3 linked regions of the Homo sapiens genome follow. The protein of the gene in region 1 interacts with the protein of each later gene in a pairwise test. Each region holds a gene or a part of one and is shown on either strand. Other genes may lie near its edges.

The links.
Region 2: the proteins of COP1 (region 1) and PCDH9 interact in a two-hybrid assay, tested with the Homo sapiens proteins (one large-scale study listed by BioGRID).
Region 3: the proteins of COP1 (region 1) and ETS1 interact in binary tests that used the Homo sapiens proteins (3 or more experiments, as listed by UniProt).

Annotation. Positions count from the first base shown.
Region 1 is NC_000001.11:175,990,787-175,994,286, forward strand, and holds part of COP1 (E3 ubiquitin-protein ligase COP1), read right to left. Parts: intron 1-3,500. UniProt on the Homo sapiens protein: E3 ubiquitin-protein ligase that mediates ubiquitination and subsequent proteasomal degradation of target proteins.
Region 2 is NC_000013.11:67,223,837-67,227,336, reverse strand, and holds part of PCDH9 (protocadherin-9 isoform 1 precursor), read left to right. Parts: coding exon 1-1,932; coding exon of another isoform or gene 1,933-1,995; exon of another isoform or gene 1,996-2,149; coding exon of another isoform or gene 2,150-2,173; exon of another isoform or gene 2,174-3,500.
Region 3 is NC_000011.10:128,486,559-128,490,058, reverse strand, and holds part of ETS1 (protein C-ets-1), read left to right. Parts: intron 1-568; coding exon 569-769; intron 770-3,500. UniProt on the Homo sapiens protein: Transcription factor. Directly controls the expression of cytokine and chemokine genes in a wide variety of different cellular contexts. May control the differentiation, survival and proliferation of lymphoid cells.

The DNA.
Region 1 (3,500 bases):
CTACCATTTTTCTTGACTACTACTTACATGGTATATCTTTTTCCATCCTGTTACTTTAACCTATTTGTGTCTGTGAATCTAAAGTCTATCTCTTGTAGACAGCATAAAGCTGGATTCTAATTTTTTTTTTTTTGTAAACCCATTCTGCCAATCCCTGAATGTTACAACATTCAACATACTTACATTTAATATAATTATTAATAGGTTGCACATCTGAAATCAAAAAATCCCAAATCCTTGCTTTTGGAGTGCCAACATTTCAATCAAAGCTCCAAATGCTTCTTCATTGGAGCATTTCAGATTTTGGATTTGAGATGCTGAACAGTAAGTACAATAATACATACTTAACAATGGAGATACATTCTGAGAAATGTATCATTCAGCAATTTCATCACTGTGTGAGCATACAGTGTACTTTCACAAACCTAGATGGTATAGACTACTACACACTTAGGTTATGTGGAATAGCCTATTGTGCTCCTATGCTACAAACCTATGTATCATGTTACTGTACTGAATGCTGTAGGAAACTGTAACAATGGTAAATATTTACGTATCTAAATATAGAAAAGCTACAGTAAAAATAAGATATAAAAGGTAAAAAATGGTACACACCCATACAGGGGACTTATGATGAATGGAGTTTGCAGGACTGAAAATTGTTTTGGGTGAGTTAGTGAGTGGTAAATGAACATGAAGGCCTAAGACGTTAACAGTATACCTAGGCTACACTAAATTTACTGTAAAAAAGTGTTCTCCCTTCAGAAATAAATCAACCTTACCTTACAGTGATTTTCTGACTTTATAAACTTAAAAAATTTTTAAAGCTTTTTGACTCTTGTAATAACACTTAGCTTAAAACACATACATTGTACAGCTGGACAAAAGTATTTCCTTTTTACATTTCCTTATAAGTTAAAAAATTAAAATAGGAAAAAGCTTTTTAAACTTTTTTGTTAAAAACTAAGAAACAGAAAGTTAGCCTAGGTCTACACAGGGTCAGGATAATCAATATCACTGTTTTCACCTCCACGTTTTGTCTCACTGAAAAGTCTTCAAGGGTAATGATATGCATAGAGATGTCATCTTCTCTGATAACAGTACCTTTTTCTGGAATGTCTCCTGAAGGGCCTGCCTGAGGCTGTTGTATAGTAACTTAAAAAAACAAGTGTAAGAAGTACAGTCTATAATAATGGTAAAAAGTAAATAATAAACAAGTATATAGTTATTTATTATCTTTATCAAGTATTGTGTAGTATACGTAATCGTATGTGCTAGACTTTTTGAACATTTTTAATTTTTTTTGAGTATTATAGTTGGTATATACACTTATGTGGAATATGAGATGTTTTGATACAGGCATGCAATGCATAATAATCACATCATGGAGAATGGCGCACCTACCTCAAGCATTTATCCTTTGTGTTACAATCTAATTATACATTTTCAGTTATTTAAAAATGTACAATGGGAGGTGGAGGCAAGATGGCCAAATAGGAACAGCTCCAGTCTACAGCTCCCAGAGTGAGCGACGCAGAAGACGGGTGATTTTGCATTTCCATCTGAGGTACCAGGTTCATCTCACTAGGGAGTGCCAGACAGTGGGTGCAGGAGAGTGGGTGCAGCGCACCGTGCGCGAGCCAAAGCAGGGTGAGGCATTGCCTCACTCGGGAAGCGCAAGGGGTCAGGGAGTTCCCTTTCCTAGTCAAAGAAAGGAGTGACAGACGGCACCTGGAAAATTGGGTCACTCCCACCCTAATACTGCGCTTTACCGACAGGCTTAAAAAATGGCGGACCAGGAGATTATATCCCGCACCTGGCTCGGAGGGTCCTACGCCCACGGAGTCTCGCTGACTGCAAGCACAGCAGTCTGAGATCAAACTGCAAGGCGGCAGCGAGGCTGGGGGAGGGGCACCTGCCATTGCCCAGGCTTGCTTAGGTAAACAAAGCAGCTGGGAAGCTCGAACTGGATGGAGCCCACCACAGCTCAAGGAGGCCTGCCTGCCTCTGTAGGCTCCACCTCTGGGGGCAGGCACAGACAAAAAGACAGCAGTAACCTCTGCAGACTTAAATGTCCCTGTCTGACAGCTTTGAAGAGAGCAGTGGTTCTCCCAGCATGCAGCTGGAGATCTGAGAACGGGCAGACTGCCTCCTCAAGTGGGTCCCTGACCCCTGACCCCCAAGCAGCCTAACTAGGAGGCACCACCCAGTAGGGGCAAACTGACACCTCACACCGCCGGGTACTCCTCTGAGACAAAACTTCCAGAGGAACGATCAGAGAACAGGACTTGCGGTTCACGAAAAGCCGCTGTTCTGCAGCCACCGCTGCTGGGACCCAGGCAAACAGGGTCTGGAGTGGACCTCTAGCAAACTACAACAGACCTGCAGCTGAGGGTCCTGTCTGTTAGAAGGAAAACTAACAAACAGAAAGGACATCCACACCAAAAACCCATCTGTATATCACCACCATCAAAGACCAAAAGTAGATAAAACCACAAAGATGGGGAAAAAACAAAGCAGAAAAACTGGAAACTCTAAAAAGCAGAGTGCCTCTCCTCCTCCAAAGGAACGCAGCTCCTCACCAGCAACGGAACAAAGCTGGATGGAGAATGGCTTTGACGAGTTGAGAGAAGAAGGTTTCAGATGATCAAACTACTCTGAGCTACAGGAGGAAACTTAAACCAAAGGCAAAGAAGTTGAAAACTTTGAAAAAAATTTAGACGAATGTATAACTAGAATAACCAATACAGAGAAGTGCTTAAAGGAGCTGATGGAGCTGAAAGCCAAGGCTCGAGAACTACGTGAAGAATGCAGAACCCTCAGGAGCCGATGAGATGAACTGGAAGAAAGGGTATCAGTGATGGAAGATGAAATGAATGAAATGAAGCGAGAAGGGAAGTTTAGAGAAAAAAGAATAAAAAGAAATGAGCAAAGCCTCCAAGAAATATGCGACTATGTGAAAAGACCAAATCTACGTCTGATTGGTGTACCTGAAAGTGATGGGGAGAATGGAACCAAGTTGGAAAACACTCTGCAGGATATTATCCAGGAGAACTTCCCCAATCTAGCAAGGCAGGCCAACTTTCAGATTCAGGAAATATAGAGAACGCCACAAAGATACTCCTCGAGAAGAGCAACTCCAAGACACATAATTGTCAGATTCACCAAAGTTGAAATGAAGGAAAAAATGTTAAGGGCAGCCAGAGAGAAAGGTCGGGTTAACCACAAAGGGAAGCCCATCAGACTAAGAGGGGATCTCTGGGCAGAAACTCTACAAGCCAGAAGAGAGTGGGGGCCAATATTCAACATTCCTAAAGAAAAGAATTTTCAACCCAGAATTTCATATCCAGCCAAACTAAGCTTCATAAGTGAAGGAGAAATAAAATACTTTACAGACAAACAAATGCTGAGAGAATCTGTCACCACCAGGCCTGCCCTAAAAGAGCTCCTGAAGGAAGCACTAAACATGGAAAGGAACAACCCATACCAGCCACTGCAAA
Region 2 (3,500 bases), on another chromosome or scaffold:
GGCACCGTGTATTTATCTGAGAAAGATCCTGTCAATACAAAGATTGCCCTAATTACAGTTTCAGATAAGGACACAGATGTGAATGGCAAAGTGATCTGTTTTATTGAAAGAGAGGTCCCATTTCATTTGAAGGCGGTATATGACAACCAATATTTGTTAGAGACCTCTTCTTTGTTGGACTATGAGGGCACCAAAGAATTCAGCTTTAAAATTGTTGCCTCTGATTCTGGGAAGCCCAGTTTAAATCAGACTGCCCTGGTAAGGGTTAAGCTTGAGGATGAAAATGACAACCCACCAATTTTCAACCAGCCTGTAATTGAGCTGTCAGTTTCTGAAAACAACCGACGTGGGTTATACTTAACAACTATTAGTGCCACAGATGAAGACAGTGGGAAAAATGCAGACATTGTTTATCAGCTTGGACCGAATGCCTCCTTCTTTGATCTGGACCGAAAAACAGGAGTTTTGACAGCCTCCAGAGTATTTGACAGAGAAGAACAAGAACGATTCATTTTTACAGTAACTGCCAGGGACAATGGGACCCCTCCCCTCCAAAGCCAAGCGGCTGTGATTGTTACTGTTCTGGATGAGAATGACAATAGCCCCAAGTTTACTCATAATCATTTTCAATTTTTTGTGTCTGAGAATCTGCCAAAGTATAGTACTGTGGGGGTAATCACAGTGACAGATGCAGATGCTGGAGAGAATAAAGCTGTGACTCTTTCCATTCTAAATGACAATGATAATTTTGTGTTGGATCCCTATTCTGGAGTCATAAAGTCAAATGTCTCATTTGATAGAGAGCAGCAGAGTTCCTACACTTTTGATGTCAAAGCCACTGATGGAGGACAACCACCTCGTTCCTCTACTGCAAAAGTAACTATCAACGTCATGGATGTCAATGACAACAGCCCAGTTGTCATTTCTCCACCGTCTAATACTTCCTTTAAGTTGGTGCCCCTCTCAGCCATTCCTGGCTCCGTGGTAGCAGAAGTTTTTGCAGTGGATGTTGACACTGGAATGAACGCTGAACTAAAGTATACTATAGTGAGTGGAAACAATAAAGGCTTATTCCGGATTGATCCAGTAACAGGTAACATTACTCTGGAAGAAAAACCAGCACCTACTGATGTGGGATTGCATCGTTTGGTGGTCAACATAAGTGACCTGGGGTACCCTAAGTCTTTGCACACGCTTGTGCTTGTATTCCTTTATGTTAACGACACTGCTGGAAATGCCTCCTATATCTATGACTTGATCCGCAGGACTATGGAGACCCCGTTGGACAGGAACATAGGGGATAGTAGCCAACCCTATCAAAATGAGGACTATCTAACCATCATGATTGCCATCATCGCCGGTGCCATGGTGGTCATTGTTGTGATCTTCGTCACCGTTCTGGTGCGCTGTCGCCATGCATCAAGGTTCAAAGCAGCTCAGAGGAGCAAGCAAGGTGCCGAATGGATGTCCCCAAACCAGGAGAACAAGCAAAACAAGAAAAAGAAAAGAAAGAAAAGGAAGTCTCCCAAAAGCTCTCTTTTGAACTTTGTTACTATCGAAGAGTCCAAACCCGATGATGCAGTTCATGAACCTATCAATGGGACAATAAGCCTGCCGGCTGAACTGGAGGAGCAAAGTATAGGAAGATTTGACTGGGGCCCGGCACCTCCAACAACATTCAAGCCTAACAGTCCTGACCTGGCCAAGCACTACAAATCTGCTTCTCCACAGCCTGCTTTTCATCTCAAACCAGACACTCCAGTTTCCGTGAAAAAGCACCACGTGATTCAGGAACTCCCTTTGGACAACACCTTTGTTGGGGGTTGTGACACCCTTTCTAAACGCTCTTCCACTAGTTCAGATCACTTCAGTGCCTCAGAGTGCAGTTCCCAAGGAGGCTTCAAGACAAAGGGCCCCTTACACACCAGACAGGTAAACGAGCACTTTTACTGGTCTATAAGTACTGCATACAAGTGCCCAGTCAACCAGTATTAACGTGCCAGTATGTCTATTGTTTTGGTCTAACTTTAGCTTAGTTAGAAAGAGGTAAAAAAAAACTTGACCCCTTTTCTATTCCTCTGGGGCTCAGTCAAGAATTTTTAGAACAGCTTTGAAATTTCTGAGTTCTGAGAATATTTTCTCCTTTCAGTTTCCTTCAAATGGCAAAAGATGAAAAGAGAAAATTATTCCAAAATGTCCCAAGATAATGTTTGCTGAAGAAGAAAAAACCTGTCCTGATATGCCAAATTCTGCTCCTGGGGGTTTCCAAATTGACTGCTTCAAGACTTTCACCTTACCTTTTGATCTAAAAAGTCACCTTCAAATCTCAAGTTTTCAATGACTTTTGAAGGTGTGACTGCAATTATGTTGCAGCTATGGTTGCTAAAGGGGTTAATTTTTTTTTTAGTCTCTAAACAGGATAGTAGAATATTAAATGTACATCAGCTGTGAAGCACATGATCGTTGATAGATTGCAACTAAGCCATATAGGAAGTCTTCTCTTTGATTTCAAATTATTTTATTGTAATATATTAAATTCGGTACTTAATAGAAAGATTTTTAGTGTCCGCAGTGGCCAAATACTCTTTCAAAAAAAAAAAAAAAAAGAATGCTTGCTGCCTAATATAACTGATTTAAAAAGAAAAGAATGAATCCATTGTAAATATTCTCTCATCTTAGTAATGCATAAGTGATCTGTCATAACTCATTTTAAACTGTGAAATATGCCATATGAAGAGGGATTAAGAGGCTGAGAAACTCATATTTCAACCAAATCCAGAATTAGTTTTTCTTAGGTCTAATAATTCCTTGTTAATAAAGATTTAAATGCAGCGCTGTCTAATTTATTTCACTGGTGCTTGTCTGTTGCCACAAAATTTGAATATCGATAATAGCCTGTAGATGGCACTAGGGTATCATGTCGCTTGTGCTGGCCAGGTGCCAATCCCGCAGTAGCAAGGAGAAGGGGGAGGGAAGGATCAAGCTGGTAGTACAGCCAAAGATACCTTTTATTTAATGATAGTTGCTCTGGAGCAACTAGCATTTAAGTTCATTCGCTTGCTCTTTTGTGATTAGCTCTCAGCACACCAACTTTCTAGGATTTCGTAATGCTAGTTCTGTCTTTGTCGATATGGAGTTCACCTATGGTGATGGCCCATCTGTACTTGTTTATAAATAAGGAACACATAGATTTTAGAAAATCAAGTAAAGCAAAATTAGTTTGCAGAACAGTATCAACAGTTATCATTGATTAGTCTTTGGAGAATCAAGAGTTTTTATTTTCTGAGGGTGGGGTGAAGTAGGATGTTTTATTGAAACAGTTTCCCCCTTACCAACTATCATTTATTGCTCTGGAAGGACTTAAGGCTTCATGGTAATAAAATATTTATAAGAGTAATTTTGACAATGAGTCATACAGATACTCCCAGAACATCAAGTATAATACATATTACCATACAACTAAAATCTCCATTCTTAAAGTAAAATATTAAACAGTAGAG
Region 3 (3,500 bases), on another chromosome or scaffold:
TTATGATAAGTACAGACTTTGCAGAGTATCTGGTATAATACAGGCACCTAATAATGTTATTACCAAGTGCCATTTGAATGAATGACTACTACTAATTGCTACAATTGTTACCACTATAATTGGCTAAGATAAAAAATAATCGAGAATAATAGTCTCAAGTATATTATAGTTAAGAGCAGGGAGAGGCATGAGCAATCTCTTGTTATTATTGCTATTAAAGAAGCCATTTGTTCTGTTCAGGGCTTTAAAAAAGTCCAATGGGAATAAGGCAGTGAGAGAGGAGATTCATGGAAATCTTTGCCTGCAAGGACAGAGAATACTCATGTGGTACTTTTTGGCTGGCAGTAGTGACCTCCTAGCTGGTGAAATAGAGAAGGCGGAGATGTTGAATATGGAGGGGAGGGTTATGGAAGGCACTCAATGATGTGCAGGCTAGGCTGATGCTTCCTCATTCGATGAATAAAGATAGCATTCTCAGCTAAATTCAGCTCCTTCAGTGTCCTCTCTGAGGCTTGGATAGGAGTTAAAAGCCCGACCTGCTGGATCTTCATCTGATCTCTTTCCTCAGACCCCCGGCAGTGGACAGAAACCCATGTTCGGGACTGGGTGATGTGGGCTGTGAATGAATTCAGCCTGAAAGGTGTAGACTTCCAGAAGTTCTGTATGAATGGAGCAGCCCTCTGCGCCCTGGGTAAAGACTGCTTTCTCGAGCTGGCCCCAGACTTTGTTGGGGACATCTTATGGGAACATCTAGAGATCCTGCAGAAAGGTAAATATGTGGAAACAGAGAGAGGTGGAGGTTATGTGGGGTTGCTGTGAGAGTAGGTAGGGGGCTCACCCAATGGTGGGACGTCAATGCCTTTATCTGTGGGTGTCCTACTGTAGGACGTATGTGGGAATGTGCCTAGTACACTGCTCAGCATACAGCAGGTACTCTTAGATGAGTGTAATTTCTTTTTCTTCTACATATTGGGGGTTCAGATATTAATCTTCAGCAAGATTGTACCACTGAAGCTTCTTGGATTGCAACATTCTAATCCAGGTCCTTATCTCAAACCCATGCCCTGGTTGAACAAGCAGTGCCCACAGCCAACCCAAGAATAGTTTTTGTTTTTGTTTTTGTTTTTGTTTTCTGCAATCTTAATACACACTGCCTTGATGCATGCCCCATAATACCTCATCACATCCCGGGAAAGCTTAGCGTCTGAGACCGTATTAATAAGACAGATTTCTCTGCCCACTAACTGAATTGGAATTGCAGTAGTGCATCATACCTTTTACATCTGGAGCAGGAACTGGGGTTATATCAGGACGCTATGTTGCAACCTTATAATGACATGGCCTCCCCTAACAGCCTCTTCCAACCTTTTTGGACCAAGTGACTCATGTACCACAGTCCTGGCTGAGTATAGAAACAGCAGCAGGCGGCAAACTTGGGTGTTTTTGTGCTTATTTTTTTGAATTTTTTCTTAAAATAAATTGCAGTTACCAGCAGTCAGCAGTGCCCTTCAGCTGACTGTAAGCCTAGAAGCCCATTGCCCTCTCTAACCCAGGCCCATCCTTTCCCTGTGGTCATCAGCTCTAACCCTTGGCACAGACGCTGGGGGAGGGGAGCAAAACTCAGGATTAGCACTTTTACCCCGCATTATACCTTCCTTTGGTTAAGAATATATTCCATTCTGCAGTGCTCAAGAGAGACCCAAACTAGATTTCTCTGTGCTCAAAAATGTTATCTTTATTCCTTCTTTTCACTTTCTGTTGAAAAATAAGACATAAAGGAATACAGGAAAGAACTAGGTGAGTCTTTCTGTGGCTGCTTTTACCGAGGATGGCAGGCAGTTGCAAAGCACCGGCATGTTCTCCATGCACAGACACCCACTCATAGGTGTTGACATGAGCGACCTGTTTATAGAGGGAAACGATACGGCAGGCTCCTAACAGATCTGATTTGACTGTTGACTTCTAAACACAATAGCAGATTCAATCAGACTGTGTAACCCAGTATATTCTACTAAGAGGCTGTTTTCCTCCATTTATCAAAATGGAGCTGCTAGGTGTTTTGGGCTATCTAAGCCCATCTCTGATTGTAGTTACAATTAATATCTCTATCATGTCTCCCTGTTTCCAAAGTGCTTTCAAATACATTTTCTCTTTGGATTATCAAAATAACTGTGAGATAGTAAGGACAAGTCCTATTATTGTCCTTGTCTGTAAAATGAAGCTCAGGGTAGGCGATTTCTTCAGTATCACTCATCTCCTTTTCTTCATTTTATTTCAACTTTCAGTATATTTTTATTTTATTTTATTTTATTTATTTTTTGAGACAGAGTCTTGCTCTGTCACCCAGGCTGGAGTGCAGTCGCGCGATGTCGGCTCACTGCAACCTTCGCCTCCTAGGTTCAAGCGATTCTCCTGCCTCACCCTCCTGAGTAGCTGGGACTACAGGCGCATGCCACCATGCCTAGCTAATTTTTGTATTTTTAGTAGAGTCAGGGCTTCACCGTGTTGGCCAGGATGGTCTTGATCCCTTGACCTCGTGATCTGCCCACCTTGGCCTCCCAAAACACTGGGATTACAGGCGTGAGCCACCGCGCCTGCCCTCAATATATTTTTATTTAACTTAAAATTTAACATCCCATCCTGTGCTTTTTGTATAATAATGTGGATTCACAGGGGCCTTCTGGCCGCTAAGACTGGTTTGGCCTCACTTAGGGTAAAGGAATAATGTAAGAAAATTTAAGAGAATTAGGATATAAGTCAGTATGTTTGAGAGCAAAAGTCATATCTTCCCACCCAATATTCTGTTGAGAGAGGCAGAAAGAATTCTCCCTCTTCAGGTTCAGTTACTTGAAGAGATGAGCATGATGTTTGTGCTGAGGCTACAGCTTTTGTTCTGTAATTAAAGCAACACAGCAGCAAAAGAACATAGCTGTTTGGGGTGGGGTGGAAGGTGAAAGGTACGGGGATGTTTCAATCTGATAAACTGCTAAAGCAAAGTTTAATCATTTTATCTCAACTGGGAACTGTTTTTCTGTGCAGGCATAAACTTGTTTTCCCATCAGACTTTGCTCCTAACAAGCTATCAAATACCTGAGGAAAAACCCAAACCCATACTCTATGTCAGATTCTTATGGTGAAATATAATCAGACTACTCCATACAAGAATCGGAGCCATGGCATTTGTTCCAGGGTAATTAGAGGATCCCAGGCTTACTGCAGGGTCGTTCAGAGCTTTCTGTCCGCAGGTGCACTTCGTCTCCCTTCCTCTCCTTTTCCTAGGGGAGTTGGCATCTGGGCAGGAGCTTGACTGGGTTGCTCTTCTCTCCCTTGACACAAGCGCAGTCGCATTTCACCAAATGGAGTCACCTTACCAGTGTCCTGCTTCTTGTCTGGGCCTGAACTTGAAACCTGAGGGCAATGGGAAAAATACAAAACAAAAACCAGACATCTGTTAGAGGAAATGGAGAACGTAAAATCTATGGCCTAAAGACTGCAATATA